Linked DNA regions of Homo sapiens: region 1 is linked to region 2. Evidence: fine-mapped expression QTL. A gene starts in region 2. The other region holds a variant in brackets. All regions are shown on one strand. Distances are from middle to middle.

Region 1 (2,905 bases), 85 kb before region 2:
AGATCAAGACCATCCTGGCTAACACGGTGAAACCCCATCTCCACTAAAAATACAAAAAAATTAGCTGGGCGTGATGGTGGGCGCCTGTAGTCCCAGCTACTCGGGAGGCTGAAGCAGGAGAATGGCGTGAACTCGGGAGGTGGAGGTTGCAGTGAGCCAAGAACGTGTCACTGCACTCCAGCCTGACCGACAGAGTGAGACTCCGTCTCAAAAAATAAAATTAATTAATTAATTAATTAGGGAAATTTTTAGCCATTATTTTTCCAAAATTTTTTCCTCTCCTTTCTCTCTTCTTCTGGTACTCCCATTGTGTGTATTTGGTGCACTTAATGATGTCCACATTTCTTTGAAGTTATATTCACTTGTCTTTTTTTTTTTTTTTTGAGATGGAGTCTTGCTCTGTCACCCAGGCTGGATCTCCCCTCACTGTGGGTTCAAGAGATTCTCCTGCCTCAGCCTCCCAAGTAGCTGGGACTACAGGCACTCTCACACTGTCATGCTGGAGTCAACCTCCCATTTACTCTGATTTTTTTTTTTAAAGAGATGAGCCCAGCGCTTTGGAAGGCCAAGGCAGGGGGATCACTTGGGCCCAGGAGTTTGAGGCCATCATGGACAACATAGCAAGACCGCGTTTCTAGAAAAATAAAAATAAAAAAATTAGCTGGGTGAGGTGGCATGTCCCTGTAGTCCCAGATACTTGGGAGAGTTAGGCGGAAGGATCTCTTGAGTCTACGAGTTCAGGGCTGTAGTGAGCTATGATCACAGCTCTGTACTCCAGTCTGCGCAACAGAGTGAGACCCTGTTTCTTAAAAAAAAAAAAAAAAAAAAAAAAAAAAAAGATGTGGTCTCAGTAAGTTGCTCAGGCTGGTCTCTAACTCCTGGATTCAAGGAATCCTCCCACCTCAGCTTCCAAAGTAGCTGGGACTACACGCACATGCCACCATGCCGTCTTGATAATGTTTTTTAAATTTTAAAAATAATTGTTTTTTGAAATGGTATCTCACTCTATAGCCCAGGCTAGAGTGCAGTGGCATAATCTCGGCTCACTGCAACTCCACTTCCCGGGTTCAAGCAATCCTCCTTCCTCAGCCTCCTGAGTAGCTGGGACTACAGATGCCTGCCACCGCAACTGGCTACTTTTTGTATTATTAGTAGAGATGGGGTTTCACCATGTTGGCCAGGCTGGCCTTGAACTCCTGACCTCAGGTGATCCACCTGCCTTGGCCTCCCAAAGTGCTGGGATTATAGGCGTTGAGCCACTGCACTCAACCAAATCTTTTTTTTTTTTTTTTTCGTAGACAGGGTCTCACTATGTTGCCCAGGCTGGTCTTGAACTCCTGGCCTCAAGCCATCCTCCTGATTCGGCTTCCCAAAGTGCTGGGATTACAGGTGTGAGCCACTGCGCCTGGC[T/C]TATTTTCTGTAGTTACTACTGGAATTGGATCTTTGGTCTCTTACATTTTCCAACTCTCGCTCTACCGCTATATTGGGAAACTGTTCACTGTTGTTTACTTTTTCAACTTAACTGGTGATCAGGCTCCTTAGGTAACAGAACTTACTCATCCAACAACTTCCCAGGGGCTCTCGTGTTTGGGGGCGGCCCCTGGTCCTGGTCGGGGCGCTCCTCTCATTCCCACCCAGCCTCACTATTGCGGAAGGAAACCCTGCGGCCCATGTCCTGCCCTCTGGGACACTGGGTGCTGATTGACGGCAACCCTGACCGTGGGCACCTCCCCAGTCCAGGAGATGGTGTGGGTTGTGGTGGCTTCACCCACCTACACTTAAAAAAACAAAAAGCTACTCAGGAAGCTGAGGCAGGAGGATTGTTTGAGCCTAGGAGGTGGAGGTTGCAGTGAGCCAAGATCGTCCCACTCCAGCCTTAGCAACAGAGCCAGTCTCAACTAAAGAAAAAAGTGTCTCAGGTACCGTGCCATGGCTTCATGAGAACTGATGTAACCCCCGACTCTGGGCAGGGCTGCCAAAGAGTGAGAGAGTGGAGACTCTCTCTCACCACTCACTTCCTGGCAGCTACTTTTCTGGATGCATGGGCAGGTCCCCTACACATGAGATGGTGTGGGTTGTGGTGGCTTCACCCACCTACACTTAAACGAAAAGCTACTCAAGAGGTTGAGGCAGGAAGATCGCTTGAGCCTAGCAGGCGGGAGGTTGCAGCGAGCCAAGATCACCCCACTCCAGCCTTATCAACAGAGCCAGTCTCAAAGAAAAAATTAACTGTCTCGGGTACTGTGCCATGGCTGCATGAGGACTGATAAAATACCCGACTCTGGGCAGGGGTACCAAAGAGTGAGTGGAGACTCTCTCTCACCACTCACTTCCTGGCAGCTACTTTTCTGGGTGCACAGGCAGGTCCACTGCACATGGTAACAGCCTGCCGACTCTGGAAACACAGTTCAGGATCCCAGTCCTAGTGCACTGGTCAGACTTTCAAATAAGCGAATAACGTTGTGGGCAGCCTGTTTTGTTCGCTTTGCTGGCTTTACAGGGTACTTCCTGTTGGCCTGAAATACAATGTTGGTAAAGACAGTTTTTCTGTGGCCTTTCTCTGTTGTGGAGGATTTGTTGTTTTTAAATTACGATTCAGGACTGAACTGTATCATAGAATGTCCTTCTTTCAGAATGCTTTGTGCCAAAACAAGAAACCTCAGAATTACATGTTAATAACAACAAACAAAACAAAAAAGACCAATAGGCAGAAGGCAAGAAACAAAAACTATTCTTTGTAGATGGTGTCATTTTACCAAAAGTTAACAGAACTAAACCAACAAACTATTGAAAATTAACAACAGTGAGATGACTATACAAATATATAATTAAAAATAACTTTCCCATGTAAAAGCAATAATCAACTATAAAAATATAATGGAAAAAACTACAATAACAAAATTGT
Region 2 (2,905 bases):
CAGGATTTACTTTCTTAAATGCACTCTTTTCATTCCCATTCAAAGGACTCCAGTATAAGTGCCACATAAACTCGTTTTCTAACTTTTAAAACTCTTCCTCTAAATGCAGCCCAACTCAGTAAAAACGTACCTAAGATCTCACAGTCTAATGTTTCCAGCTTTTAAAGCCTTTACTCCTACCCTTCCCTCTGCCTGGAAAGTGTCTCCATTCCCTGCTGTGGACAAAATCCCTCAAGGTCTTTTATAATTTCCCCCAACCCCAAATCAACTTGGATTTTCTTGGAGTTCTCACAGCATTCAGTTTATGTCCTATTCTTACCCTTGTGTTACTGATATTCACGAAATTGCTCAGTCCTTTCAAGAGATTGCTTAAGGACAAAGACTTCTTACTCAACTCTGCAATATTGGCTACACATAGCTGACTTAATAAATAGTCCCTTGACTGGTATAAGCTGACGTTACAAAAACTGGTAATTCCGAAACCACTCATACTGGACTTATTAAATAATCCCTCAACTGGTACAGACTGACATTACAAAAACGGATTAATTCAGAGATCACTGAACACCCAAAACACTCAGATTCTTATAACTATGATTCAGTAAATATGTGTGGAATGCCTATCTTACCAGGTGACTATGTTAGGCGCTGCATGAGATATAAGATGAAAACAAGGTTCCCATTTTCCAGGGAAGAATACTGGAGTGGAAAACGCAGAGGATACCACAACAGGAGAGCTATTTCCGATTAGCGGCCGCCACTGCTGAGCTATGTGACCCTGAGCAAGTCACTTCTTAGGTCTCCGTTTCTCTGTCAAGGAGAGATAGAAAAAGAACCTATTTCACAGGTTCAAACCTACCTCAAGAAAAAATAGTTGTGGGGAATGCGTCACGAGACCTAGAAAACGGTACAAAACCCTCGGGGGGCCGCTGTTTCTGACCTAGCGAGTGGCCCGACCCGGACAAAATGCCTCTTCCTCGAGGAGGCGGCGACGAGCCCAGCAACAGCTCGAGCACGGCCGGCCGGGCCGCGGGAAGCCCGAGAACGCGGCGCGCGCAGCTGGGAGGCGACCCTTACCCGGCGAGGCTCCCGGGACCAAACGCCGCCCGACAGCCACGCAGAACAGACGCGGCAGTGCGACGCCTCCCCCACTGGGGACACGAGACAGCGACAGCCACGCGGTGAGCCGGTACAAGGCCCTCTAGGCTTCAGCGGGTCTGGATACTCGGTGGCATTAACCCTTCCCTACCGCCGGGGAAGACAGCAGTTTCTCTGGCGAGGAAGTAGGCCGGGCTCAGGCGCCTTAGCCAGAGGGCGGGCCTGCGCCACCCTCGGAAAGCGTCACTTCCACTTCCGGCCGGCGCTCTGGCTCTGTACCTGGACAGGGCTGCGGTAGGCCAGCGGTGGGCTGGCGGTTGCGCTCCTCAGATCGGCGGCCTTTCGGGCGGTGGCTTGCGTTTGAGCCTCAGAAAGCGAGGAGCGGCCTCCACGGAAGCCAAGCTGGCCGAGGTAACCGAGAAGCGGCTTCCCCTATGGCTTCGACCCTGGAGCCGCTGGAGCGGCGGCGGCCGCAGGGAGGCAGCCATTTTCCGTAGGCGGTGGCCGCGGCGCTTCCGGGCCGCGCGGCTGGAGCCTGAGGCGGGGCCACCGTCGGGCACGAGAAACCATTCTCTCCCCGCTTTTCGCAGCTGTATCCCAGAGGCGCGGCTGAAGCTCGCTGGGACACTGCCCGCTTGCCCAGTGCCCACGGGCACGCCTGTCGCAGACACAGGCTGTGGCGAATCCGAGTGCTGGCGGGCAGCAGTGCCTGCAGCTGCGCCCGCAGACTCTTTCCCGCCTCCGCCGGCATTTCCGTGTCCGGCCGATGTCATGCGGTCGGTTGAGCCTCAGGGCTAGCAGCTTCTACTGATGCAAAAACATAGGAAGTGTCTCTTTGCTTCTGGAACCGGGGTGGGCAGCAAGGAGCTGGCCACTTCTTTGAATACCGGTGGCATCCTGGGCAGAATTTCGGTGCCGTTTCTGCTGGCTCACTTCAGGAAAAGTGAGGCTCACGGCTCTCCTCAGCCCCCCTTAGAAGTCTAAATGACCTTTGGAGAAATACAAAGTCAGCAGAAAGTTTCACTTTCATCGTCACCAACTCCTGTTGGAGTTGATATTTCATAAACATCAGCGACAGAAAGAAAATACGACTTGATATTTTGTAAATAAAATATCCTTTTTTACAAGTTGATATTTTGTAAACAGAGGTCAGCTGTAATTTTCTCCAGATCAAGTAAGCACAGTTAAAAATTCATATAGGCCTGGCGCGGTGTTTGACGCCTGTAATCCCAGCACTTTGGGAGGCCAAGATGGGTGGATCACGAGGTCAGGAGATCGAGACCACCCTGGCCAAGATGGTGAAACCCTGTCTCTACTAAAAACACAAAAATTAGCCGGGCATGGTGGCACGCGCCTGTAATCCCAGCTAGTCGGGAGGCTGAGGCAGGAGAATGGCTTCAACCGGGGAGGTGGAAGTTGCAGTGAGCTGAGATCACGCCACTGCACTCCAGCCTGGGTGACAGGGCGAGACTCCATCTCAAAAAAAAAAACAAAATTCGTATAAATCATCTGCATGGCACCCTTTATGTGTGTTGCAAAGAATGATGAGCATCTTGTTGCTTACTTGGGAGACATTGTCTGAAAATAGGCTACTTTTTTACTTTCTGTAGTACCCCCTCCCCCCACTGTATCTGGGTTTCACTTACCCGCTGTCAACTGCCATCCAAAAAATATTAAATGGAAAACTCCAGAAATAAACAGTTCATAAGTTTTAAATAACTTTTTTTTTTTTTTTTGGAGATGGAATCTCGTTTTGCTGCCCTGGCTGGAGTGCCGTGGCACAGTCTGAGCTCACTGCAGCCTTCAC

What was found. PIP is the estimated chance that this variant, and not a neighbour inherited with it, causes the effect.
Region 1: its variant is fine-mapped to the expression of TIGD7 in adrenal gland (GTEx, PIP 0.99).

Annotation. Positions count from the first base shown.
Region 1 is chr16:3,219,611-3,222,515 of GRCh38, forward strand. ZNF200 (zinc finger protein 200) reads right to left here. Exons shown (of 5, transcript NM_198088.3): 5 at 2,715-2,905. Among named protein-coding and RNA genes, the nearest start is that of ZNF200, 14 kb to the right of the region's middle. The variant T/C (reference allele first, on the strand shown) is at 1,411.
Region 2 is chr16:3,304,135-3,307,039 of GRCh38, forward strand. TIGD7 (tigger transposable element derived 7) reads right to left here and starts at 1,296. Exons shown (of 2, transcript NM_033208.4): 1 at 1,078-1,296. ZNF75A (zinc finger protein 75A) reads left to right here and starts at 1,363. Exons shown (of 7, transcript NM_001302109.2): 1 at 1,363-1,509. RefSeq lists an enhancer at 857-1,386.